Homo sapiens: one gene and its partners. The protein of the gene in region 2 purifies or fractionates together with the protein of the main gene of each other region. This does not show direct contact. Each region holds a gene or a part of one and is shown on either strand. Other genes may lie near its edges.

The links.
Region 1: the proteins of ACKR5 (region 2) and ACAD10 purify together in Homo sapiens (co-immunoprecipitation; 2 studies listed by BioGRID and IntAct, with this or other methods). This does not show direct contact.
Region 3: the proteins of ACKR5 (region 2) and NFXL1 purify together in Homo sapiens (co-immunoprecipitation; 2 studies listed by BioGRID and IntAct, with this or other methods). This does not show direct contact.
Region 4: the proteins of ACKR5 (region 2) and DGAT1 purify together in Homo sapiens (co-immunoprecipitation; 2 studies listed by BioGRID and IntAct, with this or other methods). This does not show direct contact.
Region 5: the proteins of ACKR5 (region 2) and EXOC3 purify together in Homo sapiens (co-immunoprecipitation; 2 studies listed by BioGRID and IntAct, with this or other methods). This does not show direct contact.
Region 6: the proteins of ACKR5 (region 2) and FADS1 purify together in Homo sapiens (co-immunoprecipitation; 2 studies listed by BioGRID and IntAct, with this or other methods). This does not show direct contact.
Region 7: the proteins of ACKR5 (region 2) and SFXN5 purify together in Homo sapiens (co-immunoprecipitation; 2 studies listed by BioGRID and IntAct, with this or other methods). This does not show direct contact.

The regions. Positions count from the first base shown.
Region 1 is NC_000012.12:111,692,178-111,696,122, forward strand, and holds part of ACAD10 (acyl-CoA dehydrogenase family member 10), read left to right. Parts: intron 1-519; 5' UTR 520-532; coding exon 533-719; intron 720-3,945.
Region 2 is NC_000012.12:56,992,841-56,997,291, forward strand, and holds the start of ACKR5 (G-protein coupled receptor 182), read left to right. Parts: upstream 1-1,651; 5' UTR 1,652-1,808; intron 1,809-2,353; 5' UTR 2,354-2,369; coding exon 2,370-3,584; 3' UTR 3,585-4,451. UniProt on the Homo sapiens protein: Orphan receptor.
Region 3 is NC_000004.12:47,886,711-47,890,655, forward strand, and holds part of NFXL1 (NF-X1-type zinc finger protein NFXL1), read right to left. Parts: coding exon 3,903-3,945; intron 1-3,902.
Region 4 is NC_000008.11:144,323,984-144,328,358, reverse strand, and holds the start of DGAT1 (diacylglycerol O-acyltransferase 1), read left to right. Parts: upstream 1-1,506; 5' UTR 1,507-1,722; coding exon 1,723-1,922; intron 1,923-2,977; exon of another isoform or gene 2,978-3,041; coding exon of another isoform or gene 3,042-3,061; intron 3,062-3,106; exon of another isoform or gene 3,107-3,714; coding exon of another isoform or gene 3,715-3,743; intron 3,744-4,130; exon of another isoform or gene 4,131-4,352; intron 4,353-4,375. UniProt on the Homo sapiens protein: Catalyzes the terminal and only committed step in triacylglycerol synthesis by using diacylglycerol and fatty acyl CoA as substrates. Highly expressed in epithelial cells of the small intestine and its activity is essential for the absorption of dietary fats.
Region 5 is NC_000005.10:463,550-467,494, forward strand, and holds the end of EXOC3 (exocyst complex component 3), read left to right. Parts: intron 1-740; coding exon 741-863; intron 864-1,561; coding exon 1,562-1,723; intron 1,724-2,168; coding exon 2,169-2,296; intron 2,297-3,177; coding exon 3,178-3,349; 3' UTR 3,350-3,741; downstream 3,742-3,945. UniProt on the Homo sapiens protein: Component of the exocyst complex involved in the docking of exocytic vesicles with fusion sites on the plasma membrane.
Region 6 is NC_000011.10:61,806,638-61,810,582, reverse strand, and holds part of FADS1 (acyl-CoA (8-3)-desaturase), read left to right. Parts: intron 1-3,858; coding exon 3,859-3,919; intron 3,920-3,945.
Region 7 is NC_000002.12:72,956,608-72,960,552, reverse strand, and holds part of SFXN5 (sideroflexin-5), read left to right. Parts: intron 1-3,449; coding exon of another isoform or gene 3,450-3,573; intron 3,574-3,945. UniProt on the Homo sapiens protein: Mitochondrial amino-acid transporter. Transports citrate. Does not act as a serine transporter: not able to mediate transport of serine into mitochondria.

The DNA of each region.
Region 1 (3,945 bases), about 55 Mb from region 2:
GGCTGGTCTCGAACTCGCAACCTCAGGTGATCCACCCGCCTTGGCCTCCCATAGTGGTGGGATTACAGGAGTGAGCCACCACACCTGGCCCAGATTTACAATTTTTAAAGAATACTCTGACTGGAGGGTGAAGAAAGAATTGGAGAGAGGTCTGAGAAGAGGCAAGGGGGCCAGTTAGGATCCATGGGCAAGATGGTGGCAGTGAGAATGCAAAGAGGTAGATGAGATTTTCAGGAGAAAGACTTGACAGCACAGAACTAGATAGGGCGAGGTGAGGTAGAGATTGCAGAAAGTCAGAGGCGAGTCCCAGCTTTCTAGCTTGGGCAGCCGAGTGGGCGATGGAGCCCTTGACTAAGTAGCCAGGGAGGGAGGAGACACTGAGGTCAGTTGTGGGTGTGATTCGAAGTGCCTGTTGGAGATGGGTTAGAGATGTCTGGCTGGCCCCTCTGAGCTCCAGGATGGAGGCCTGGTTGGGAGGCAGTGCAGGCAAGTAACGCCCTGTGCCTTCTTCCCACACAGCCTCAGCCTCACCATGTGTGTCAGGAGCTGTTTCCAGTCCCCCCGTCTCCAGTGGGTGTGGAGAACAGCCTTCCTGAAACACACCCAGCGCAGGCACCAGGGGTCCCACCGATGGACACACCTTGGAGGCAGCACCTACAGAGCGGTGATTTTCGACATGGGCGGAGTTCTCATTCCTTCTCCAGGGAGAGTCGCTGCAGGTGAGCTATTGATTCTGTTTCACTTTGTGGGACTAGAGTGGTGGTGGGAGAATGGAGGGTGATCGGGAAGGCAGAGGGGAACACTTGGGCAGCAGTGTGTCCCAGCAGGCCATGCTCTGGCTCTCGAGTCGAATTCCAAGCACCACTAGGGGGCTGAGTGTCTTGGGCGCATGATTCAGCTTCTCCAAATCTTACTTTCCTCATCATTAAATGAGCTAATGGTAGTGCCTTCCTCCTTGGGATTTGGCGGAGAGTTATCCGTGGGAAGCACTTGCTTAGCACAGTGATTGCTCAGTGCATCCTAAATTCTCAATCAATGATGAGCTGCCATGAATGCTGTGATTAGAATTTAACCACCAAGGCAGGGCACAGTGGCTGAAGCCTGTAATCCCAGCACTTTTGGAGGCCGAGGTGAGAGGGTCGTTTGAGCCCAGGAGTTCAAGACCAGCCTGAGCAACATAGTGAGACCCCGTATCTGCAGAAATTTAAAAATTATCTGGGCATGATGACAGGCACCTGTAGTTCTAGCTACTCAGGAGGCTGAGGTCGGAGGATCACATGAATCCAGGTGGTTGAGGCTGTAGTCAGCCGTGATCATGCCACTGCACTCCAGCCTGGGTAACAGAGCAAGACCCTTACTCAAAAACAAACAACCAAAAATCCCAAAGAATTTAACCACTTCTTCTTGGGAACTGTTCTACTTCTGAAATCTAGAATGCTGAAATTCCCCTTTTGATTACAGCCTTCCTCCCTTCTACCCCACTCCCTCTAAACCTGCTTCTGGACTGACAGGGTAAGGGTCAGCCCTCTGGTCTCTGGTCTTCTCTTTACCAGCCCCTTCCTGGTTTTACTTCTTTTCTACTCAGTTCAGTTTTTATTAGTTAAAGTCGTTTTGGCTTCAAGCAGTAGAAAACCTAACAAAACAGTGACTGAAACAAGCTAGAAGTTTCTTTCTCTTGCACATAAAAGCCCAGGTATGTGGTCTGGGGCACTGTGTGATGCGACTCTGTGGTATCAGGGACTCCGACTCTTTATAGCATGTTGCTCTGCTGTGACTTTTCATTTCCACTCTTACATTGTGGTCTGTCTTGGCTGTGTCGCCTCCTGCTATCATATTCTCATGCCAGCCAGCAGGAAGGACAAAGGGCCAGGCAGCCATCCCTCTCCTTTTGACCTTCTGTGGTGGCTGGTTGGCCAGTTCTCCATCCTAAATCAACCCAGGCACAGGTTTTCTATGCCTGCGTGTCTAGGCTTTCCAGCACTGCTGACCAAATTACTCAGCCGTGCTAACTGGCTGCACAAGCTGGTTTCTGAGCTCCAGCCTCAGTTGGGCCATTGGTGCTACGCCTGAGCCTCTCTGTTCCTTCACTCTTATCTCTCTGTTCCTTCACTCGTATCTCTGTCATGTTTACCTCAGGGGCTGTTCCAGACTGTCCACTCCCCCTGCTCCTTACCACCCCCAAATATTCTTGCTCTGCAGATAGCTGAATCTGTTCTTCTACAAAGAACATAAAGACTAAACCTGAGCAACACAGTGAGACCCTATGGTGAGCTAGGATTGCACCACTGCACCCCAGACTGGCACAACAGTCTTTTTTAGAGAACCTGTCTCTAAAAAAAAAGGCAGCAGGGAAGAACATAAAGATCACTGGACAGAAAGTTTCTTGACTTTCTCTAGAATATCTTAAGAACCAATTCACTTCTCTCCATTGCCACTGCCTCCACCCTTGCCTTCTCTCACCCAAATGATGTCATCAGCCTCCTAACTTCCTCTGCCTCTGGCTCTCTGGATTTTACAAAATCTCCTCCCAGCTCCAGAATTAACCTTTCTAAAACATGGATCGTGCTTCTGCGCTTAGCAGCTCACACCTGTAATCTCAGCAATTTAGGAGGCCGAGGTGGGCAGATCGCTTGAGCACAGGAGTTCAAGACCAGCCTGGCCAACCTGGTGAAACCTTGTCTCTACGAAAAATACAAAAAGCGTACCTGGGCATGGTGGTGCATGGATGTAGTCCCAGCTACTTGAGGGGCTGCGGTGGGAGGAACTCTTTAGCCTGGGCGATTGAGGCTGCAGTGAGCTGAGATTGCACCACTGCACTCCAGCCTGGGTGACAAAGTGAGACCCTGTCACAAAATAATAAATAAAATAAAAATAAAGCATAGATCTTGTTCCTTTCATCCCTGGCTTGAAAATCTTGAATGCCTGCATGTGGTCCCCTAGATTAAGTCTAGAAGCTTTCACCTGGGATTCAGGGCTCCTCTCAGTTTTAGCTTTCCTGCTATGGACTACCTGATGCTCCCCAGGCATGCCAGGCACATTTGCATGTTTGTGCCTTTGCAAGCTGTGTTTCCTCCCTGCCTCCTCTGCCTGTTCAAATCCTACTGATGCTTTTAATGGCAAATTTAAGGGGATATTATTCAGCAATGACTGGAATCTTTTGAACACTCAGTAAATCTCATGGTTGTTACTAACTTCAAGAGTCCTCTTCTGTCAAGACTTCTCCAACCTCATTTGCAACCTGGGCAGAATGTTCCTGGATAGCCAATTCCCATTAAGTTTCACCTTCACCGAGATATTTTTGTTTGCAGTGGGATATGTTCATGTCTCCTCTATGGGGCTCTTGGATTCCAGGACCCCAGGTCTGGGATTTCTTCACTTCACTGTTGCAGTGTTAGCTCTGCAGGCTGGCTCAGTCATTCAGGAAATGTTTGATGGGTAAATGTGAACAAAATAGTGATGCCTTCTACTTTGTCTTTTGCTTGACTGGAGCTTCTAATGTTATTTATTTCAAATGAACCATATCAAGGGTCATTTGATAAGAATATACTAGAATTGGCCAGGTGCGGTGGCTCATGCCTTTAATCTCAGCACTTTGGGAGGACGAGATGGGCGGATCACTTGAGGTCATGAGTTTGAGACCAGCCTGGCCAACATGGCAAAATCCAATCTCTACTAAAAATTCAAAAATAAGCGGGGCATGGTGATGGGCACCTGAAATTGCAGCTACTCTGGAGGCTGAGCAGGGAGAACCACTTGAACCCGGGAAACAGAGGTTGCAGTGAGCTGAGATCATACCATTGCGCTGCAGCTTGGGAGACAGAGCAAGACTCTGTCTCAAAAAAAAAAAAAGTATATATATATATACACTAGAATTACTGTACTATACTATTTTTTTTTTTCTTGAGATGGGATCGCGCTCTGTTTCTTAGGCTGGAGTGCAGTGGT
Region 2 (4,451 bases):
GCGCCACTGAATTGTACACTTAAAAATGGTTAACGTGGTAAACCTTACATATATTTTACCATAATAAAAGAATCAGTGAGCAAACTTTTAAAAAATGTTCTCTTTGAGTGGATAAAGAAAATGTGGTGTGTGTGTGTGTATATATATATATATATATATGGGAATATTACTCAGCCATGAAAGGAAATGAAGTACGGATGCATGCTCCAAAGTGAATGAACCTTGAAAACATGCTAAGTGGAAAAAAAAAAACACAGACACTGAATGTCACATATGATATGGTTCCCTTTCTATTAAGTATCCAGAATAGGTAAATCCACAGGGACAGGAAGCAGAAGGTTGGTGGTGGGGGGAATAGGATTGACTGCTTAATGGTTATGGGGTTTTCTTTGCGGGTAATGAAGATGTTTAGCACGTAGACAGAGGTGGTGTTTGCACAATGTGCATGTCTAAATGCCATTAAATCACACATTTTAAAATGGTTAATTTTATGCTATGGGAATTTCACCTCGACTTAATATATACTCAATCCCGTCCAGCCGACACACCTTTGGCTCAGGCCTAGGCCACTCTGCCATCTGCCAAGTGTGGCTTGTGTAACAGACAACTTCTCTGGGCCTCAAAGAGGGTGAAGAAATCCATCCTCCCCACAGGGGTATCTCCAGAATCCAACGAGATGAAGTGAGGTGAAAGCGCTCTGAAGGGCAGGAAGCTCTGCTGACACAAAATGTTTACCCATAACACGTGGCTTAGAGTCCCTTACCCTCTAGCTTGGCGGGAGAGAGAAGTCTGCTCTCCCTACCCCACGCCCCATCCCCTGCTCATCCCCTGCCAGCCACCCACCACACCCTTCACGCAGAGAAGTATAGAGCCACAGGGGGAGGGCGCCATTCTCTCTCTCCCTCCCTACTCAGGAATCTCCCTGAAGCTTTGACAAAGCCCCCTTGACACCCCGCATTCAATCTTATTTTTATTTTTTTTTATTAACTCTGTCACCTAGGCTGGAGTGCAGTGACCTGATCTCAGCTCACTGCAACCTCCGCCTCCTGGGCTCAAGCGATTCTCCTGCCTCAGCCTCTCAAAATGCTGGAATTACAGGCGTGAGCCACCATGCCCAGCCATTCAATCTTTTCTTTCCCAGATTCTCACCTCCAATCACAAGATGAAGGCAGGGAGCTCACAGCCCTGTGAGGGGCTGGGGAGAATGGCAGGGGTGGGCCAGAGTTATTAAAAGCCCAACTGATGTTCAGATTTATTTTGACCCTCCCCTATACCCCCACATCCAATTTCACTCTAGTAGGAATCAAGACAGGGGAGAGAGGGATTCCAAGCTGACTTAGGGAGAGGAAAATACATACATACGTAAAGCATTTGCCACAGGCCCCACCTGAGCTAAGCACTTTCCCTCCCTCAACAGCTCCTTTAATTCTCAAAGCATCCCTTTTAGTAGATAATAGACCCCACTTTGCAGAGGAGAGCACTGAGGCTGAGGAAAGAGGTAAATTCATTCAGCGGGTGAGGGAGGAGCTGGGATTTTAATGCTGGCAGTATGACCTCCCCGCCACTGGCACACCGGGTCTTTTGCTGGGACATCCCCTGTAACCGGATTGGGGGAATGCAGGAAAAACCCCATCCCTCCCTACAGAGCCTCAGCAGTGACAGCTACTTCCCGGATGAGAAGGGCGGCCGTGAAGCCAGCAGGGAAGCCAGCCCCACAGCCAAGGGCCCCCCAGCCTCCTCACAGCTCCCCATAGCCTGGACCTGCCGGCCCTCCCTCCAGGACCGAGGGGCTCCCAAGGGAAACTCAGGTGAGTGTCGCCCTCTCCCAGGGAAGATGGGAATCAGGGCTTGGAGACAACTGGCTATCCTGCATGATCCACAGGTTTTCCTAGGGATGAATCAGATTGTGTGGTGTGCGTGTGTGTGTGTGTGTTCCACACTCACGGTCCAAATAACAAGACAGAAAAAGAGCAATAAAGATCTGTGCAAAAGGGCTGAGGAATGAAGTGCCAGGAGAGAGGTGGAGGTTGGAGACCACCTAGGAATGGTGGGTGTGGGGGGATTGAGGGGGTTGTTGAGGGGGAACTGGCTGGGGGTGGGGAGAAATGTTGGTGGACACCAACAGTCCTGGCCTCTTCCAGCTGAAACCCCTTAAGAAAGTATCTCTGCTCTTGGGTCAGAGCTAGCAAGTGAGTTGTGTATTATTTATTCACAGTTTGAAAGCTAAACTTCCCTTTCTTGCCTTAGCCCCAGAATCTTTCCCCAAAGCCCCCGACTCCCTCTGGCCTCTACCTTGAGGACACAAGGCTCTCGAGGTCTGCTTTCCCTTCCAACCCTCCCTTCATCCCAATAGGCGTGTGCTGGTCCCAATGTCAGTGAAACCCAGCTGGGGGCCTGGCCCCTCGGAGGGGGTCACCGCAGTGCCTACCAGTGACCTTGGAGAGATCCACAACTGGACCGAGCTGCTTGACCTCTTCAACCACACTTTGTCTGAGTGCCACGTGGAGCTCAGCCAGAGCACCAAGCGCGTGGTCCTCTTTGCCCTCTACCTGGCCATGTTTGTGGTTGGGCTGGTGGAGAACCTCCTGGTGATATGCGTCAACTGGCGCGGCTCAGGCCGGGCAGGGCTGATGAACCTCTACATCCTCAACATGGCCATCGCGGACCTGGGCATTGTCCTGTCTCTGCCCGTGTGGATGCTGGAGGTCACGCTGGACTACACCTGGCTCTGGGGCAGCTTCTCCTGCCGCTTCACTCACTACTTCTACTTTGTCAACATGTATAGCAGCATCTTCTTCCTGGTGTGCCTCAGTGTCGACCGCTATGTCACCCTCACCAGCGCCTCCCCCTCCTGGCAGCGTTACCAGCACCGAGTGCGGCGGGCCATGTGTGCAGGCATCTGGGTCCTCTCGGCCATCATCCCGCTGCCTGAGGTGGTCCACATCCAGCTGGTGGAGGGCCCTGAGCCCATGTGCCTCTTCATGGCACCTTTTGAAACGTACAGCACCTGGGCCCTGGCGGTGGCCCTGTCCACCACCATCCTGGGCTTCCTGCTGCCCTTCCCTCTCATCACAGTCTTCAATGTGCTGACAGCCTGCCGGCTGCGGCAGCCAGGACAACCCAAGAGCCGGCGCCACTGCCTGCTGCTGTGCGCCTACGTGGCCGTCTTTGTCATGTGCTGGCTGCCCTATCATGTGACCCTGCTGCTGCTCACACTGCATGGGACCCACATCTCCCTCCACTGCCACCTGGTCCACCTGCTCTACTTCTTCTATGATGTCATTGACTGCTTCTCCATGCTGCACTGTGTCATCAACCCCATCCTTTACAACTTTCTCAGCCCACACTTCCGGGGCCGGCTCCTGAATGCTGTAGTCCATTACCTTCCTAAGGACCAGACCAAGGCGGGCACATGCGCCTCCTCTTCCTCCTGTTCCACCCAGCATTCCATCATCATCACCAAGGGTGATAGCCAGCCTGCTGCAGCAGCCCCCCACCCTGAGCCAAGCCTGAGCTTTCAGGCACACCATTTGCTTCCAAATACTTCCCCCATCTCTCCCACTCAGCCTCTTACACCCAGCTGAGGTAGAGGCCAGACTCCTCCAACAGTGAAGGAAAAGGCACAGGTGAGAGTATAGGTGGGAGATTTGGGGGGATGTAGAGGGGAGGGTCAAAGCACTCGTGGTCAATTTTGAATCTATCTTAAAATACTGAGGTGTGGAGAGAGAGACAGGATCAGGAGCGATAGAGAGCAGGCCCTCAGTGTTGTACTATTTGTCTCGGTCCTTGTGTCTAAGGAGCAATGCAGAAAAAAAGGTGAAATAAATGGAAGAGATAGCCATGGACTCTGGATCTTTTAAAAATCTGCACTTCCAGCTGGGATTGGGAAGGGAGCTGAGGCTAAAGAGGTGCTCGGCAGAGGAAACTAGACACATTCATTTCATAAATCACTCTGGCTGGAAACAGTGAACTCTGCAGGAACCTCACAAAACTCCTTTTGCGTTTGTGAGCTTGTTGATCTTCCAGCTCACTATGCAGGTTATGGGGACAAGAGGCCAGAGGCCAAGGAACCAGGCGGCCCCAGCAGGACGTTCCCTAGCTGTGCATCCTATGCACAGCCATGATAAGTGAAGGCGGATGGGGATGGCAGGGGTGGGGGCGAAGCCAAGGTCTGAGACCTGCACCCTGCAGCTGGGTCAGCAGGATGGTATCTCCACCCGCGGCCATCCAGGAAACACAGCTCCATTTCCTTGCTGACACCCTCCCCTCCCCGTTGTCCATCCTGCTCCCTCCCCACAAGCAAGAGGAGTTGTCCCAGAGTCAGCTCCTCATAGCTGACCTCTTACCAGCTTCGGATCTAGGAAACTTCCAGACTTCTAGGGAGACACAGAGCTACCAGAAAGCCCAACCCACCCCCATCTCTTTCTCTCCAGATCATAGGAAAGTATCAA
Region 3 (3,945 bases), on a different chromosome or scaffold from region 2:
AAAGTTTTAGACATTTCTCTAAAATGTGCTAAAACTTCTGTTCTAAATAACAAATTTAACACATTACTCATTCAAAACTAAAACAAGCAAAAATGGATTTAAGTCTTTGGAAAATTTAACATTAACAATAATATCGTTGGCCTACTTTCATACATCTATCCAAGTACACAATTTTTAGATGAATTCCCAATAACTTCTTTCTCATGACCTGATATTGGTTAGTAGCAAGCACAGTCAATTTTCCATTAATTGTGCTTTGTGAAAGACTAAGTACTAAGCCACCATTTTAGGATATAATCCCAAATATTTCTCTTCTAAACATAAAAAAAAATGTTATTTTGGTTTCAGCTTTTTACGCTCTTTTGTTATGGGTTGGCAAAAATATAAAAAAACAAAATCAAAGAAATCTTTAAAGCAGGCTATAAAGTTCGCTCCAAGAGGTTCTGTCATCATCTTAAGGGCTTTCTTCCACTCTAGTTTTCCCAGTAAGGAACTCTATCAGAAATGAAATAATAAAGGAAGAAGAGTTTTCAATGAAGAAATGAATATCTTAAAGAGACTGTTGCCTAGGTGTCAGGACCAAGCAAAACATGGACCGGGAGTTAACCTGATAAAAAAAAGATTAAAGATGGACAATATCCTGGCTTAAGTGCCTCTAGAAGTTCAAAATAGTTCCCTAAAACAAACACAAATTAAGAATTATAATTCAAATAATGAACACAGAAAAAGAGAAGATTAGAGGTAAAACATCGTAGGGTCAAACATAACATTTATTATACAAAACACCAAATGTGTTTTGACACATATATTCTTGATGTTAATGCAAGTCAAGTTATCCTAACCCACATATCAAGTTTTATTTTTATTTTACCTAAAGAATGACTACAAGTTGTATTTTTAAAGTTGATAGTGATATTTAAGTCGGTTCTCATTCGGCATATTATATCTGTTTCTATACTTAACAATGACAATTTTTCATTCATCTTCAGCAGAGGAACCTTTTTGTTATCAAACGTAACCTTTTTGTTATTCTAAACAACAGTATCACATTTAAATTACATCTTGAAAATAAGGGACAATTTCTCTAAACAGTCTCCCTACTGACCAACAGAATTTATTATAATTAAAAGAGCTTCCATAATACTTTCAAAATGAAGAAATAGCATAGGGAGACTATAACTATACTGACCAATACCAGTTAATAGCCAAAATAGGCATGATTCGGGTAGTTCTAAAACTATAAACACAGATGATCCTGAATTTAAAAAAAAAAACTATAAATCGGCTGGGCGCTGTGGCTCATGCCTGTAATCCCAGCACTTTGGGAGGCCGAAGCAGGCAGATCACGAGGTCAGGAGATCGAGACCATCCTAGCCAACATGGTGAAACCCCGGCTCTACTAAAAATACAAAAATTAGCTGGACATGGTGGCATATGCCTGTGATGCCAGCTGCTCGGGAGGCTGAGGCAGGAGAATCACCTGAAATGGGGAGTCAGAGGTTGCAGTGAGCCGGGATTGCGCCACTGCACTCCAGCCTGGTGACAGAGAGAGACTCCGTCTCAAAGAACAAAACAAAACTATAAATCAAATTTTCACATACCCACAACACAAACATGCAGTTAGTATATTCCCCCTATAAATTACTGTATAATTCTGATTATGAAGGATTCTAGAATGATGGAAAAATGGTATGAAATTATGATTCCACATTCTTTTATAACTGTAGATGAAACAAATATTGACAGTTGCACAACAGCATCTTCCACATACTTTACATCAAGGAAAATTTTGTTGTGACTAATAAGCTTTTCTAAGGATTAATAGAAATCTATAAAAACAAAACAAACAAAAAAACACCACTCTACCAAAAAATATCAAAACCTGAATCTGATCAAACCTCTAGATCCAATTAACAGGTTATCAAAAATATAGAGGACAGAGGAACATGTTAAATAATACCACAGAGATGCAATCTGCAAAACTCAGACTCTGAGAAACTAAATAAAGCAACCTAGTTTCTTCAACAAATAAGTCATAAGGGGAAAAAAGGAGATAGAGGATGGAAATTATAAATTAAAAGACTTTAGAGACAAAACCAATTACAACATGTCAATTTTATTAGGTTTTTGAGTCTATAAACTGATGTAAAAAATGAAGTTACTTATGAGACAACAAGAAATTTGAAAACCAGATGTTTGCTGATATGAAGAAATATGTTAACTACATTTAGGTTAAGAATCCATCTTTTAGAGACAAATACTGAAATATTTATGGGCTTTGCTTCACAAAAATATGAGACAGGGAAATGCTTCCAACACTTCTCCAGTAAGTATGATATTTGCTCTAAACTTTTTGCAGATACTCTTTATCAGGTTAAGGATATGTCTATTTCCAATTAAATTTTTATCTTATATAGATGTTAGACATTTATCAAGATGATCTCATTCCTCCTTTGGTCTTTTAATGTGGTAAATTACATAATATTAGATTTACTACTGTTAAACCAGTTATATCACAGAGATGTAGTTTGCAAAAATCTGCAAAAACTCAATGGGTCAGTGATGTAATGACTATAAAAGAAAATAAAATCTTTCTAGTGTTGGTGAGAGCATACCTGAAAAACTATTTCTAAACTTCACTGACAAATCAAAGAACACCTACAGGAAATGTCTACAGGGTAAATAGAATCTGACACTTTTCCTAATGGGGAAGGAATGTAGTATAATGGAAATAACATAAACACTGGGTTCACATCCTGACTCTGCGACTAGTTCTATTAACCTTGGGCCAATAGTCTCCCGGCCTGTTCCACATATCCCTATATGCTGCAGGATTTCTGAAAGGATAGGGAGATCAACTGAGAAACAGTTCAGTAGTTTGTTCTAGGTATTAAACTACTAAATGGCAGAGTCTAGGCTTAAATCCAGGATTTCTTACTCTAAGTCCACGATCTTTCCAATACTGTATACCATATCTCAGTAGATTCCATTTCATATCAACATAATCCAAATGAGTGAAGTTAACTCAGTTTTTAATGTCTAGTAATAACTTATAACATAATTCTCAAAGTATAGTCCAGGAACCCTAGTGGTTCTTGAGACCCTTTCAGGAGGTCTGCAAGGTCTCACATGCATAGTTTTCCAGAAGCTAGTGAAAAGTGATGTCCATAGCAGACTGAATACAGAAGCATATATGTGAATCCGGCTATTTTCTGTTAAGCTAGACATTAAAGACATTTGTAAAAATGTAAAATTTTCTACTTTTTTCAGAAAATAGTTATTTTTCATAAAACATTATTTGTATTAAGATATAATGGGTTTATTACTGCTATTTTTAAAAAATAATAAATATTATTACATTTTATTTTAATTTCAAATACAATAAATGTCAATGAATAAAACTCACATTAACAAAAGCCCTTTGGGGACCAAAGGATTGTAAAGGGGTCATGACATCAAAATGTTTAAAAATCACCAGCTTCGGACATATCTAATCCTTTACTAGATTTAACTACAAATAAGTATATAAAATTCAGAATAAATAAGGTGTTCAAAATGCTATGAACACCTTCATTGATTAAAAAATTATGTGGGGAAAGTCAGGAAGTGGGAAAACAATATGGTGTTATAGAAAGGACAATACTTTTATATACAGAAATCCTGGGTTCAAATGTACTAGACATTTCCCTGAGTAAGTTACTGAACCCTCTTAAGCTTCAACCTCTTTGCCTATAAAATAGAGACACTGGCAAACTGCCTTACCTTCTTCTCCAGGTTAAGAGAGTCAAGTGAGATAATGACTATAAAACGCTATTTCAATACATTATATTGAATATTGACAATGAAAAAAAAAACCACTACATCACTACAAACATAAAATCATAGCTATTATTAAAGTTTACCTCTGTGACAGACAGATGGACACTTATGGTTTCTACATCCTAA
Region 4 (4,375 bases), on a different chromosome or scaffold from region 2:
TTTCTAGAGTCAGAGTCCTCAGTGAACCCTGGCATCCTGAGATCCAGGATGTTCTCACTCCATGCCCTGTGCAATATGCACACCAAGCCAAGGTGGGCCGCAACTGTGGCTGTTACAGTTGATTAGTTGCTTCATTTAACATACAAGATGTCTGGGGCAGTGGCTCATACCTGTAATCCCAGCACCTTCAGAGGCCGAGGTGGGAGGATTGCGTGAGGCCAGGAGTTCGAGACCAGCCTGGGCAGAATAGCGAGACCCCCATCTTTAGAAAAAATAACAACAGGCCAGGCGCGGTGGCTTGCGCCTATAATCCCAGCACTTTGGGAGGCCGAGGTGGGCGGATCACGAGGTCAGGAGATCGAGACCAGCCTGGCCAATATGGTGAAAGCCCGTCTCTACTAAAAACAGAAAAATTAGCTGGGCGTGGTGGCACGCGCCTGTAGTCCTGGCTACTCGGGAGGCTGAGGCAGGAGAATCGCTTGAACCCAGGAGGTGGAGGTTGCAGTGAGACGAGATCGCGCTACTGCACTCCAGCCTGGCGACAGAGTGAGACTGTCTCAAAAAAAGAAAAAAGAAAACAAAAAACAACAGGGCGGTTGCACAGGCCGTGCAAATGCACAGAAGCCTCTTGAGTCCCGGCGATCCAGCGGCCCAGACTTCTGACATCCTGGAGAGGCTGGCCCACGTTGGAAACTGGGAGGCCCTGAGAGTTGAGGGACGTGGAGCTCCTTGTGGAGAGAGTGGGTGGGCTGAGAAGACACCACCAAGGGGCCTGCGCCCTCGCCCTCGCCCTCGCCCTCCTCTCGCCGGGCTCTGCAGGCGGGGAGGTGGAGAGCCTGGGAGTCGCGTGCAAGGCAGGCGTCCCGGTGACGCAGGGCCTGGTGCATTTCTCCAGCTTGGTCTTCTGACCTGGCCCTTGTCTGACGTCCCCCTAAGGCGAAGAAAAGCAGGTTCCTGCCGGGGTAACCAGAGGGCTCGCGGAGCAGAAGCGCGCCAGGGACGTTACTGTAAGCTGCGTGCGCAGAAACCAACGCGCTGGGTGGCGGGCGACGCGAGCCGCCGCGGACACCGGCCCGGACAGCTGGACCGTGGCGCACTAGGCGCTTCCTAAATGATTGCCCGGAGTGACTCGCCGAGACCCCGTGTGTACACAAGTGGGACGAGGGGCGGGCGCACAGCGGCCAGGAAGTCGGGGCCCAGCGCACCCCTCAGCGGACCATCCCGCTCCGTGGGGCCGGACAGGACCCCGGGACCACGCGGGAGCGATGCAAGGTCCGTTCCCGCTGCGCGCACTTGCGGCCCGCAGCCCCGGCCCTGGGAGCTGCCACGGCTCCCAGGGTGCTCTGCGCCGGTGCGGCCGCGGCGACTACGACTCCCAGGGTGCTCTGCGCCGGCGCGCCCGCGGCGACTACGACTCCCAGGGTGCCCTGCGCCCCGTCAGCCTCTCCAGGCCCCGCCTCAGGTCGGCCGCGGACTACAAATGGACGAGAGAGGCGGCCGTCCATTAGTTAGCGGCTCCGGAGCAACGCAGCCGTTGTCCTTGAGGCCGACGGGCCCGACGCGGGCGGGTTGAACGCGCTGGTGAGGCGGTCACCCGGGCTACGGCGGCCGGCAGGGGGCAGTGGCGGCCGTTGTCTAGGGCCCGGAGGTGGGGCCGCGCGCCTCGGGCGCTACGAACCCGGCGGGCCCACGCTTGGCTGCGGCCGGGTGCGGGCTGAGGCCATGGGCGACCGCGGCAGCTCCCGGCGCCGGAGGACAGGGTCGCGGCCCTCGAGCCACGGCGGCGGCGGGCCTGCGGCGGCGGAAGAGGAGGTGCGGGACGCCGCTGCGGGCCCCGACGTGGGAGCCGCGGGGGACGCGCCAGCCCCGGCCCCCAACAAGGACGGAGACGCCGGCGTGGGCAGCGGCCACTGGGAGCTGAGGTAGCGGAGCGCCTGACCCCCTAACCTCTGACCCAAGGGCCCCGCGACTTTCCGGGGTTGGCCGAAGCGCGAGCTCCGAGTCCGAGAACATGGGCCCTGGGCTAAGCGGGGATCGGTGTGCCCTATGGGCCCTGTGGGGAAACTGAGGCTTGGGGAGAGTCACCTGACAAGGTCACTGGGTAGGGGCTCTGGAGCTGGCCTTGGCCAGGCAGAGGGGAGCCGGCAGGTGTCCCGCATCCAGATCCTCTTGGGTCTGTGCATCCTCAGGGGCTCCTGAGGAGCTTTTCGAGGGGCGGGCTGGTGGGGGCCCGGCCCTGGACAGTGTCCCCTTATATGGAAGGAGTCAGATAAGATCTGGGCAGTTTGTGGTGATAGGTTCCTTCTTGGTGCTATGAGCGGTGCCTTGCGGGTAGGAAAGGCTCCCAGAGGAGGGCTGGCCTGCCAGGGAGGGGGCCAGAGGAGCCCAGGCCTGTCCGAGGACAGGGGAATCAGCAGCTGCCCCGGACAAGGGGCAGTGTTAGAGGCGTTCTTGTCCTTGCAGACCCTTCTGAGAGTGGCTGCGTGGCCCATTCATTGCTCCAGTGGTTAGGCTGGCCTGGAGCCCTGCCGATGTTGCCAGAGCCAGCGTCTGTTGTAGGGACAGAGAGTTGGGTTCTGTGTTGGGACTTCCATCCTCCAGGTGGGGAGTGGGGTATGGGGGTGGTGGACACACCTGCAGGCGTGTGCCCTGCTCAGCTGGATGACTGACAGAGAGGGGTGGAGGGAGAGAACCATGGCCGATGGGAAGGACTTGGCCAGCCTGGGCATTGGCTTCCTCCACCAAGCTGGCCTTGAGCAATCCCCTTGCCACCCTCCATCCCCCCTTTATGGCCTTTACCCTGGCCCAGGGGCCCTCAGGGCTTTGTTTTAGAGAGCAGCTGAGGGCCTAGAGGTTATCAAGGCAGAAGTGGGCTGATTTTGGACATGTAGTTGGCAATGATTTGCTCTCTCAGTGAGCAAGAACAGAGCTTTCCTTCACGGGGCACCATGGGGAGGGGGTTGGGGGAGGGCAGGCACTGTCGTGGCCCTCAGGGTGCTCAGTTCATCTGGGAGATAAGATAACCTCAGCGAGAGTCAGGCATGGAGCAACATGGACAAAGGTCGGGCACGGAGGCCTTGAAGGGGCCGTGGGGAGGAGGGTGGCCCTCCTGAGAGGGGTGCTTGCCTGCTGTGGGCCTGGGGTGCTGGTGAGGGAGGCTGGCCTAGGCACCTCCTACCTGAAAAGGAGGTGTGGCTCCTGGAGTTACCCTCTCTCCAGGAGGCAGGGGGATGGCTACATGACCTGTGGAGGACGTGGGAATTGAGATTTCTTTTTTTTTCTTTTCTTTTTTTTTGAGACTAGTTTTGCTCTTGTTGCCCAGGCTGGAGTAAAATGGCACATTCTTGGCTCACTGCAACCTCTGCCTCCCAGGTTCAAGTGATTCTCCTGCCTCAGCCTCCAGAGTAGCTGGGATTAGAGGCGCCCACCACACCCGGCTAATTTTGTATTTTTAGTAGAGATGGGGTTTCTCCATGTTGGTCAGGCTGGTCTCGAACTCCTGAACTCAGGTGATCCACCTGCCTTGGCCTCCCAAAGTGCTGGGATTACAGGTGTGAGCCACCGCGCCCGGCCGGGAATTGAGATTTTTTTTAGTGTGAGATGAGGGTAGTCCCAGCTTTGGGCCAAGCCGCCACCTGGGGGTAGGCAGGGGAGAGCAGTCACCTTCTTGCTTTGCAAACCAGCAAGGCTTTCCTGTACTTCTGCTGGTGTGGGATGGGTGCAGAGCTCGTGGGAGAGGCCTGGTGAGTCCCTGTCCCTGCCGTGGAGGTCGGGTCTCCTTGGGAAGAGGGGCAGTAGATGGAGAGGTGAGGCCTTCATGGGGCTGGAGGCTGAGACCAAAAGTCTATCTGCTCCTGGGTCTCCAGGACTTGCAGGCTATGTGTGCTTGTCCCTCAGACCTAGGGATGCAGCAGGGCTCGGCCACTGGCTGTGGACACTGGGCTCTTCTCCCTGCTGTCTGCGTCAGGCCTTGCTCTGCCTGCCCTCCTGGGACTTGGCCTCTAGCGCACCCCCTTGTCAGCCTCACAGCCTCCCCTCCCTCCAGCTTCCTGCTGCTCTTGGCCCAGCCCAGCCTTTCCTCTCCCGCTTCCTCATTACTCCTTGAGCTCGGGCCTCCTCCCCTCACGGACACTTCCTGCTCACCTAGGGCTGGGCTCTGGGTGTGAGCTCCTTTCTTCCGGCCCCGTGGCAAGGTGAGGCTGTGAGGCAGGCAGGAGAGGGCACCCCTTTCTGCTCTGCTTGTGGCTCACTCCTGCCAGGCTCTTTGCACACACCCACCAGCCCTCTGCTCACAGGCACCCCAGTCGGGGCCATCCGGTTTCTGGCTTCTCCCAGGGTGTTTTGTCCCTGAGGTGTCCTTTCTGACTCTCCCTTT
Region 5 (3,945 bases), on a different chromosome or scaffold from region 2:
GTGGGCCTGAACTGGGTTGGGTTTTTGAGGGCAGCTTGGAAATACAGCCATTGTAGTTTTAATCTGTAACTTTTACTGGAGTTTTAATTTGTACACTTCTATTGGAGTTTTAATTTGTATACTTTTATTGGAGTTTTAATTTGTATACTTTTATTGGTTTTAATGTGTATACTTTTTGACTGAAAAATTCAACTTTAAGGAATTTCATCAGAATTATACAGATTCACTGTTGCATTATTGCAAAATGTGAAAAAAATTTAAATGTCCATCAATAGAGAATTGGGCAAATAAATACGATAAATATATGTAGCCACTAAAGGTAAAATGTATACATGCACAGATATTTCCATCTTTAACATGTCATTTTGGGAAGCTCATCACAGAAATTGTAGTATAAATCTCCTATACTTAAAGTACACATTTGCAGATTATATAATCAAATTTTTACCTGAGTGCGCATTGCTGTTGTAATTAGAAAAGCAGTGTGACGTAGCAAAGATGCACGGAAGTGCCTCCCTCCCACACGCACTCAGTGCTCGTGGGACGTTGAGGTGAGGAAGTGCCTCCCTCCCACGCTGCACGCAGCTCTCGTGGGGCGTTGAGGTGAGGAAGTGCCTCCCTCCCACACTGCACGCAGCTCTCGTGGGGCGTTGAGGTGAGGAAGTGCCTCCCTCCCACATGCACTCGGCTCTCGTGGGACGTTGAGGTGATGATTTCTATGATCTGTTTCTGCTTTTCAGCAACATCTGAATGAATTGATGACGAAGAAGTGGCTATTAGGGTCAAACGCTGTAGACATTATCTGTGTCACCGTGGAAGACTATTTCAACGATTTTGCCAAAATTAAAAAGCCGTATAAGAAGGTAAGAAGGTGGGACCTAGTTCCCTCATCACCTTGACGCTAGGGCTCACCTCTCACCCTGCTCAGAATTCAGCATCCAGCGAGTCCCTCCGTGAGTGAACGTTCACTTGTTGTCCTATCAGCCCAAGGGAGGCAATAGGCTCTGCGGACGCCACCTCCCTGGGACGGGGCTCTGGTGAGAATGGCCGGGGCCCTGTGGCATGGCCCTCGAGGTGGAGGGAGCCATGGTTCCCGGAGAGGCCCGCGTGCCCCGTCTTAGCTCCTTGCCTTCCACTCACTCCCTGAGGCCCCAGGGATTTCTTTCCGCTTCAGACCCTCCTTCCTGCAGGACCCAGGTTCCTCTTTCCTCCAAAGTGCCTGCCGCGTTTTCCAGATGCTGCGGTCGTTATCAAAGGACAGCAGCAGCCACTGACACGGGCCTGTCTGTGGACCGAGTGCTCATGCGCGGCACTGCCTCGCCCGCGTCTGTCCTGCTGGGGGCCGGAGCTGGCCTGGTGCGGGGGTCCAGGTCACCGTCACTGTTCCCCCACTGAGCCCCCGCTCCTCCTCTGCGGTGAGATGCCAGAGCCGTGGCGGAGCGAGGAGGAGTGGGCTCAGAGCCTCCGGGGAGCCACCGGGAGCCCCAGCCTGGGTTTCAATGAGGGTGCTCCTGGCCGCCAGAGCCGTGGAGCCTGCCGCTGACCGCGCGTGTCTCCCCAGAGGATGACGGCCGAGGCGCACCGGCGCGTGGTGGTGGAGTACCTGCGGGCGGTCATGCAGAAGCGCATTTCCTTCCGGAGCCCGGAGGAGCGCAAGGAGGGTGCCGAGAAGATGGTTAGGGAGGCAGAGCAGCTGCGCTTCCTGTTCCGGAAGCTGGCGTCCGTGAGTGTCGCGCAGGTCCGGGCTGGAGAAGGCCTGTCGCTCCGCGGCCCTGTTCAGCCTCCACCCCGGGACTCGGGCCAGTAGATGGGAGTGTGTCGTGTGTTTGTCAGGCGGGGGGAGCCTGGGTCCAGGTCCTGCCTGACCTTGTGGTTGGACACGAATGTCCACAGAGGTAGACGCGCCGGCCCCGCCGGCTTCCCGAGGCCGCCCACAGCTCCCTGACGGACGCTTCCCAGTCTGTCCTGCGCTGCGAGGTGCTGGCTGCCTCCCACGGTCTCGCCCTCACCCCAGACCCCTGGCCCTGTCACTGAGCTTTCAGAGTAGATCCTGAGGAGTCAGGTGAAGAGGGAGGTTCCCAGTCAGGAAGGGGCTCAGCCAGAATCCAGCTGCTCCCAGCGCCGCGGGACAGCCGAGGGCGGCTCCTCACATTGCTGCTGCCTTCCAGGGTTTCGGGGAAGACGTGGACGGATACTGCGACACCATCGTGGCTGTGGCCGAAGTGATCAAGCTGACAGACCCTTCTCTGCTCTACCTGGAGGTCTCCACTCTGGTCAGCAAGTATCCAGACATCAGGTAAGGGATGCACGTCTTAGAATCCTGCCTTAGAATCCTGGAGTGGAGCGGCAGGTCCCTCCTTCTGTCTGGGGCGGGTGGGGCTCCTGGTTCGCAAGTTCAGCCCTGCAGCACGGCAAGGGTTCAGGTGCGGCACAGCGGGGCCCAGGCGCAGGGAGCAGAGCTGCTTCTGTGCTGCCTTCCACCTGGCCTGGGCTACAGTGTGGGTGGGTGGAGCTCGAGGGGCACATCCCGGGTGGGGACAGTGGGGTGGGGGCGGGGCTGTGACAGCTCTGCTGTGTGTGGTGGGGAAGATTTGGGCTGTGGAGTGGCCTCAGTGGGGCGAGTTTAGGAAGTTTCCTCTGTGCTCATGGTGGACTCGGGAGGGCCCAAGTGCAGCTTGGACCAGACACCTTCCGAGGACGTGATTACAGGGAGTCCCCAGTACCAGGTCCAGGGAAGGGGACCCACGCACGTCCCCCCTCCACCATGCTGGCTCCAGGCCCCAGGCCAGCCTTTGCGGCCCCTGTCTCAGGGCACCTGCCACTTCCCCAAGGGGCCACCTCCATGGCTGCAGCCGCGTCACCTCCGTCCCATCATCTCGCTGGTTAAACGTGGAAAAACGGGGTCTTGAGCTCTCCACGGTCTCCCCTCTGGTTGGGCCGGAACAAAGATTTATAAAAGCAGTGTTGAAAAATCTTTCTGCAATTGGATTGAGAAAAGACAGAGTAAGATGAAAATGCAGGCTTGTCTCCCGCTGAAAAGGGAAAGGTGCAATTTGTCTGCAGCGGTCCTCACCCCCTGTGTTCTGTCAGCTGGGGTGGTGAAGCCGTGAGTCCCTGGCAGCGTGGTGCATCACAGGGCTGCTAAGTGGGCATGGGCTGACATCTCCCCATCCCCAGGGATGACCACATCGGTGCGCTGCTGGCTGTGCGTGGGGACGCCAGCCGTGACATGAAGCAGACCATCATGGAGACCCTGGAGCAGGGCCCAGCACAGGCCAGCCCCAGCTACGTGCCCCTCTTCAAGGACATTGTGGTGCCCAGCCTGAACGTGGCCAAGCTGCTCAAGTAGCCTCCGCCGGCCTGCCCTGCTCGCCCCTCCACAGCCTCGGTCCCTGCCTTTAGAAACGCGGGACAGCTGATTGCTCTCCTTGGCCACACGTGCTCCTTTTAGCTGCACGGCCTGTCTTTAGGTGCCAGTGTGATGCACCGGGTGTGCGTCGAGTGAGCGTCCCGAGGCCACGTGCGGAGGCCCCTCACTGTGCTGTCAAAGGCCTGTGGGTGCAGGGCTCTGCCGCACAGCCTCTCTTGGGTGCTTGTTTGTTGCAGTGGTTGAAAGTGTGTGGGGCACAGAGGACGTGCACCTCCCTGCCCTCCTCCTCCCTGGGCCTTCACCGCACCCCATCTGCTTAAGTGCTCGGAACCCCGTCACCTAATTAAAGTTTCTCGGCTTCCTCAGAGAAATGAAAACGCCATGCATTCTCTTTTCCAGTTAAGGTTTTCTGACTACTGATCTAGGATTGCCCAGGAACTGTTGTCAATCACAGAGTAAAAGTCTCCGCTCAGCCTGGAGGGCGCCCTCCTGGTCCCCTCCTGTCTGACATCCCCTCAGCCTAGAGGGCGCCCTCCTGGTCCCCTCCTGTCTGACATCCCCTCAGCCTAGAGGGT
Region 6 (3,945 bases), on a different chromosome or scaffold from region 2:
GCTGCCCAGGAGGGAGTCACCATCCTCCCTAGAGAGTTCAGTCAGCAAACCGTTACTGCATAAAAGGCACCTCATTTTGCAAAGGATCCAGCGGATGACCAGAAGGATCCAAATGATGAGATAGCCTATCCTTGAAGGTGCTGATGGCACCTCCTGGAGGTGCTTTTTTGACACTCTTGCCCCAGGCAAGTATTCCCCTTGCACTTTGTATTTCTCTCCCACACTTAGGTATCCTTCTTGTCACAGTCTTCTCTGTCCAGGGCTGGACTGTCTTACTCTTCTTTCATGTCCAATATCTGGAACATTCATTCACTGAGTACTTCTTCCCACCCTGCTGATCCCCAGCCTGATTTCCTGGGTGGTCAGCGTTGGGTTTGAGATGTCGTCTGAAGTTGTAAGCAGAAATAATGTAGCTGCTGAAGGAATAATGCCTGGGGGTGGAGATCTGGTGAGCTTTTAGTGAGCATTAGGCAATGGAAGGTTCTAAAAGGCCAGCAGAATTCTTTGAAAAGTTCATTTAAAGCCCTTTGTCCCAAGGCTGTAGGCTGCAGAGTTCTTCCAGGTCCACCTCCTCCACTTTGTGACATTTCAGCTTGCGAGGAATTAAATTGTCGTTAAAACACATTTCAGTTCTAGGCATGAGTTCAAGGTAGCCTGGCGTTCCTCTCGCCCCTGGCCATGAGAACTTTGAAAGGGCTTTGGCAGCACTGGTTGGCCTGGCATGAGGAGCTCATAGCTTGAGGCTCATGCCCCACCTGTCCATAATGTTCTTATTTTCCCATCATGAGCATGGACTTGGGTTTGTTACATGTCCGATACCATTATGGTCAGTACTATGCAGATGACGAAGCAGCCCTGTCCCCCGTCTGACTCCCATGGCTGCTTCAAGGGCAGTGTGGTTATTTGCTGGGCAGTGGCATGGGGCTTGTGCATTTCTACTGTCACTACAGAGGGTTTAAAAAAAAGACATGGGCAGGTTAAGTGGAAGGGAACAGTCTCACACCACTACCTTTATTGCTTCTTGGTACTTGGGTTTTCAGGAAATTCCTATCAGCAGACATCAAAAACAGAGAATGAAGGGACGCAGTTGGCATGTGCCTGTGGTCCCAGCTACTTGGGAGGCTGAGGTGGGAGCATCGCTTGAGCCCAGGAGGTGAAGGCTGCAGTGAGTATGATCACGCCACTGCACTCCAGCCTGGGTAACAGCGCAACCCTGTGTGTAAAAATAATAATTTTTTAAAAAGATTAAAACCAAAAAAAAATTGTAAACAGAGTTCAACGTAACTTACAGATTAAAAACAGTAAAATATGACAGAAACTGAGAGGTAGTCATGATCAGATATGGCCTCCTTCGGGTGCCGACATCTGAACTGAGACCTGAATGATGAAAAGGGCCAACACTGCAAAAATTCAGGGAAGGAACATTTGGAACAGAGAGAACAGTCAAGTACAGAGGCTCCCGGATGTTCAGGGACAGTAAGCAATGAGAGAATGAGAAGACCAGAAAACTAGGGAGGGGCCAGATCATGTAGGGCCTTAGAAAGCCATGGTAAGGGTGTGGTAAGAAGTTTGGGTTTTATTCCAATAGCAATGGGGAGTCACAGGAGGGTTTCTGGTGGGTACAGCAATCTGCTTTGCACTTTAAAAGGCTTGCTCTGGCTGGAGGTGGAGAGGATGAATTATAGAGGGTAGGTATAATCACAGATATAACCTCAGTGAGGCGGCTGGAGCGAGTCCAGACCAGACCACGGAGGAGCAGGTGAAGCCAATGGATTTGGGATATGTTTTGGAGGCAGTGTAAGCAACGCTTGCTGAGGACCTGGATGTGGTGGTGAGAATCACCCCATCTCGAGCAACATTAACTGAGGAAAAAATTGAAAAAGGGGCGCCCTTGCTTGGGGGCTTCCTATTGTGGAACTGTTATGGAAAGGAGCCCCATCCATTGCTTCCTCCTTGAATGGCAAATGCCTTTATGATCCCTATAACTTGTCCCATTATGTTTAGACCCTTGGTGGTCAGAAGGGTTCTATTTAGGGCAGTGTCCCCTGCCCCTCCTTGTCCTCCAAAAATTTTGGGAGGCACTGACGTGGATGTCATGGGGTCAGCACAGGCATCAACATCCCCAGAGGGATGGAACCAAGCAGCCTATTGCCCAGGCATTCACTAACAGGCAGCCCATCCTCAGCCTCATAGCTGGCCGGGGAGAAGAAAGGCTATTTTGGGTCCCAGATCTTTTTTTTTTTTTTTGAGACAGAGTCTCGCTCTGTCACCCAGGCTGAAGTGCAATGGTGCGGTCTCAGCTCACTACAACCTCCGCCTCCCGAGTTCAAGAGATTCTCCTGCCTCAGCCTCCTGAGTAGCTGGGACTACAGGTGCGTACCACCAAGCCTGGCTAATTTTTGTGCTTTTAGTAGGGACGTGGTTTCACCATGTTGCCCAGGTTGGTCTCAAACTCCTGGGCTCATGCAGTCCGCCTACCTCAGCCTCCCAAAGTGCTGGGATTACAGGCATGAGCCACTGCACCCGGTCTCTGTTTACAAATTTATCACCAGCTTCATCCCCTAAGGTTATAAGCTCCATGAGGGTGGGAAGTCTGTATTGTTCACCTCTGTATCCTAAGCATCTAGAACATAGCCCGGCACACAGTAGGTGCTGAAGAACTTGAATCTGTTAATGTAGAAAGGATGTTTCATCTAGCTGAAGTGTCTTGTACAGAATAAACTCTCAATAAATGAACTGTGGACACATGGAAGGGTGAGCTAGAGCTCTGCTCAGGGGTTGAGTGCTCCTCTTGTGCCCTTGTGGTTGTCTGGTTACCTGAACTAATTGGAGTGCGATGCAGACATAGTCATGGAGTGAGACAGCAGAACTTTGCTGTCTTGTTTGTGAGCCCACATCAGGGGTTCTAGACTGGCTGGTTGACATGGTGGCCCCAGCCTGTCTCTTCAGCAGCTCGGCTTATAAAAAATAACCACCACCTACTGGGGAAAACTGCTGGAACCTTCAGATTGCCAAATTGTTCTTGGTGTCTTTTCCAGAAATATTTGCCAAACTCGAATTAGCCTTCAGGAGATTTGATAAAGCTCATGTTTAAGTCAAGAGACCAAAAGATTTTGATGGGGAGAATTAGGGGCTGGATATAGAGGGAATACTTAACCTGTATAGGGGCAGATATGGTTGTCCATGGAGATTCTGGTGTGAAAAAGTACGATGGCGGCCGGGCGCACTGCCTCACACCTGTAATCCCAGCACTCTGGGAGGCTGAGGTGGGTGGATCACCTGAGGTTGGGAGTTCAAGACCAGCCTGAACAACATGGAGAAACCCCATCTCTACTAAAAATACAAAATTAGCTGGGCGTGGAGGCACATGCCTGTAATCCTAGCTACTTGGGAGGCTGAGGCAGGAGAATCGCTTGAACCCAGGGAGGCAGAAGTTGTGGTAAGCCAAGATCGTGCCATTGCACTCCAGCCTGGGCAACAAGAGCGAGACTCCGTCTAAAAAATAAACAAAAAAGTACGATGGGAGAAAGGGGAGAGGGCAGTGGGGCCTGGAAACCTCATGACAAAGAGAATGAACACAAGAGGGCCTGTGGTCCTGTAGACTCTGTGCTGTGCACATCCCTCATGTGAGCATGGGCCATCCAGCTGCAGGCCATGGTGTGACACACTCTGCAGATTACAGTCTAGGGCTTCATGTTCCATGTGCTGGAGGTAAGGCTGGGCCTCTTGGAGCTTTCCAATAGCACCAACAAGCTGTCAGCCCTGGAGGAGGCCTAAACCTCCAAGCAAGGAAAGGTCAAGTCACAGAGGGAGGAATCACTGGTCTCCGAATGCTCATGTGTTTGCTTTTCTTCACAGCTTGGGAAACAGAAGAAAAAATATATGCCGTACAACCACCAGCACAAATACTTCTTCCTAAGTGAGTGTCCCCATCCAACACAGGGG
Region 7 (3,945 bases), on a different chromosome or scaffold from region 2:
CCCTGTGCTGCCGCGTGGGGCTGGGTTAGAGCTCCAGAGAAGGAACCATCAGGAGCCTGTGGCGGGCATCCAGCAAGCGGTGATGGCGGCTTGGACCAGGCTGTTGGCAGTGGGCATGGAGAGAAGTGGGTCCCTAAAGAGGGAGTCAGGAGGCGGCTTCTTCGGGATTCGATGAAGAGCTGTATGTGGTGGGAGGGAACGGGAGCCAGAGGATGTGCACTGGCTTTCTGGTTTTGAACAACCAGGCAGATGTAGGTGCTTAATGAGATGGAGCCAGGCGGGGGCAGGTTCGAGGGAGGGCAGTGGGTCAGTTGGATGGACACGCGGGGTTGAGGAGCCTGTGGGATGTTGGCTCTGGGTCTGGAATGAGGAGAGACGCCTGGGCTGGAGGGATAGAAGTAGAGCCTACCAGCATGACAACAGTGCTGGAATCGAGGGTGGTGGGTGAGGCCTCCACCCTGGCGGGGTCCAAAGACAAGCAGCCAGGGTGGTGAGGGCAGATCCGGGCCATGTGTGATCAGGGTGGGTGGGGGGCATCCACAGGGTCAGACCCTCCTGAGAGGTCACACTCCATGAGATTACAGAGTATCCATTAGTGTCTCAGGCAACGTAGCCAAACCCTGTCCCCAGAGAAGGGATCCAGGTGACAGGTGAGGGGAAAAAATGAGAAAGACAGGTCCACAGCCGCAACAAGATGTGGGATCAGGAGGGGCTTTTATTTATGTATTTGTCCTTGTTTTAAATGGGAGAGACAGGGGCTTGCGTAAATGCAGTAGAGAAGGCACCAGGAGAGATGTCGAGGACGCTGACAGGACGATTTTGGGAAAGTCTATGAAGAGGAGGGGGGACCAGAGCACAGACGAGGGGATCAGCCTTGGCACGGGGAGACCCCTCCCCACTTCAGTAGGTGGAAGAGGAGTGGGGTGGGAGGAAAATGCTGCTGGGGGTAGGGTTCAGGGGTAGGAAAATTGAAGAAGTTGTTCCAATGGCTCCTGTGTTCTTGTGACTGAGCAGACAGGAGAGAGTAGGGTGGGGAAGGGGCAGGAAGTCAGAGGTCTGAGGACACAGAGAAGGGGTGAGACATCCAGGGGAGAATGAGAGGTGAGGAGGCTGAGCAGCACGTGGTCTGGGAGTGCAGCCGGGCCTGTTCACCAGGAGGTGCTATGGGCCAGTACAGGGAGGGCCACAGATCCTTTCTTCTGGGGTTTTGTCAGGTTGGGGGTGAGGGGGGCTGAGAGATGGGTGACAGCACGGAGGAGCAGAGGACCACGGGATCCACGCTGGGTTGGAGTGAAGGTGGGAGCTAAGCTGAGGGGAAGGCACAGACCCAAGAGGGCCCAGGAGGTGTCTGCATTGAGCTCACAAGAAGGCGAGGGCTGTGGCCAGAAAGCGGCGCTTCTGAATCTGTGATTTCACCATGGACCTGCTTCAGGCAGGGCCCCAAGAGAGGTGGAGGAGAGGTGAGGGCTCCTGGAGACAAGTCGGGGAAGTGAAAACAAGAGGCCGGGGCTGTTGGGGCTGCGAGGGCTGGAGACCCAGGCTCTTAGAGCAGGAGGAGGGGGTGACCCGCCTTAGGCCCTGGAAGGTGAGAAATGGGGTGGCTTCCTTCCAGAGCCCCAGAGTTTGAGGAGGAGACTCTGTGGGAGTGGGGCTCCTGTCTTGGGGGACACCATTCAACGCACACCAAGATTAAAGCTAGCAGGACCTCATCTCATGCCCACAGCGGCCAGCCTTGTCATGGGTGCTGGGATGCTCCTTCCCCCACCTCTCACCCTGGGAAACCTGCAGCCTGGGACTCCAAATGGAGCCATGGGCTCTGGGTTGCCTAGTAGCCCTGAAGAGGGAAGGCGGGTATTTCTCAGTGGTCTCTGACATCCCTGTCCCAGCCCAGCACTCCCTGAAGCCATTGCATCTGTCTGTGCAATCAGCCTGAGCCCAGGGTCCTAGGCCAGGGCCAGAGTCACCCATGTGTTTATAGGTACCTCTGTGCTTCTAGTAGCTGTCATAACTCCACCTGCCTGCACAGAGAAGGGACCCAGGGCAAAGAAAATACTGATGCAGAATCAGAGACCCTCCCAGTTAGAAGGATTTTCAAGGTCATCCAGTTTACCTTGCTACTGACTTTGCTGGGGAAATGGTGGCCCAGAAAAGCCATGGGACCAGCCCAAGGTTGCAGAAGTCAGGTGCCGATAGGAGAGGAAACACCAGAGGTCCACACTCCAAGTCCAGGCCCCTAGGAAGTGCTACACCTGATCATTTCCTGTGGCTGAGTTTCTCTCCCTAGTCAACCACCTTACCTACCTTGGGACAGCCAAGAGAAGAGGGAGCTGGGGGCTGCACTGTGGTGGGTGGTAGGAAACGGTCTAGAAGAGCTGTAGGTCTTTGGCAGGTGTTCCTCTGGGGCATATAATGGGGAGATGCCTACCATTCACCCACCCAGGCCTCCAGCTCTGGCTGCAAAGCAATGATGGAAAGTGAGCCACCCTGGTCTCACAGCTGCTGCAGGTCAAAGCCCAGGCTCCCCTCTCCCCACATGCCTACTTCAAATAGACATGGGAGTTAGTTCTTCTGCATATTTAACCAAAGTCCCTCTTATTGCAATCCAAGCCTCTTTCTCTAGATTGGGAAGAAGATAGTCATTGCATGTTAAGTCTTTGTTCCTCTGGGAAGGGAGGGTACAGGCATGATTTTCAGAGCTCCCTCCTCAGCTATGTGGATCCCAACAAGATGCAGGCTAGCCTGGGCATTATGGGGTGTTTTGAGCCCTGTTTGGGACCCATGGCACCAAAGCCTTCAGCCAACTTGCCGAGAGGGCCTTGTTTCCGCATTCACTCTCCCAATTAATTCTCCCTAACAAGGTGCTTCTTCTGCCATACAGGGATCATGTCTCACATCCCAGAAGCCAGTGGGATTTGCCACAATAAGTCTGGACTTGCTTGGGCTGACCCAGCCTTGCCAAAAGCCACCAAGGTTGTCAACAGAAGTAATCACTGGAACACCAATTAACTAATCAGGGGACTCGGAGGTAGAATTTAGGAACTAGTTCCTAGAGTGGCTGGCCTGCAGTGATTGTTGTGGAGTTTCCAACTCACTAACCCCAGAGATTGAGGCAAGGACTTCAATCCTTCCTTCAGTTCCTGGGGGAGAGTTTTATCTGCTCTTTTCAAATTAGTAGTTCTGCTTATTAAAATGGTACTGAGGGTCAAACTGCAAATAATAATAATGGCTACCATTTGCCAGATATCTATTGGACCAGGCAGCATGCTGGGAGCTCGGTGTACCTTACTGTATTAAGTCTTCCTAATGCCCCTTAAGTCTAAAACATTGAACATCAAGAGATGATTCCTAGACAGTCAGATGGCTCTGGGGAGAGAGTTTGGCTGGAGATACGGAACCTTCAGTGTATGGGGGGGAGTTGAAGCTGAGAAAGGGGATGTGGTCCACTATAGGAGGAAGAAAAACCATCAAGAAGGGGAAGAAGCAGCCAAGGGCACAGGGAGAACCCAGATGGAGTAACTTCATGGAAGCTGAGGACTTGGGCGATTCAAAGAGGAGGGGCTGTCTCCAGAGTGGGTGAGTGCAGAGGGGACTAGGAGTGGAGGAGACTTAGGTGGCATAGCTAGACATGGCAGTCTAGGAGGCAACATGGTATTCAGTTTCTTCTTTGTTCAGATGATTGAGCTCAAAGATGGGGAACTGTGGGAGAACAGCAAAGAAACTGTGAGATGGAGGTTGGGGGGCTTGGAGAGAGGGCAATGATGGGGAAGGAATGCCCAGAGCCCAAGGCGGGAAGGCATGGCCTCTATGGAGTCCCTGGGTCCAGTGAGTAGAGGGGGCTACCTGGCTGTGGTGGAGAAATGGGGGCCTGGATCCTGAGAATTCTCCAAGGTAGGTATCAATATTCCTTGTTTACCAATGAGGAAACTGAGGCACATTAAGGTTAAG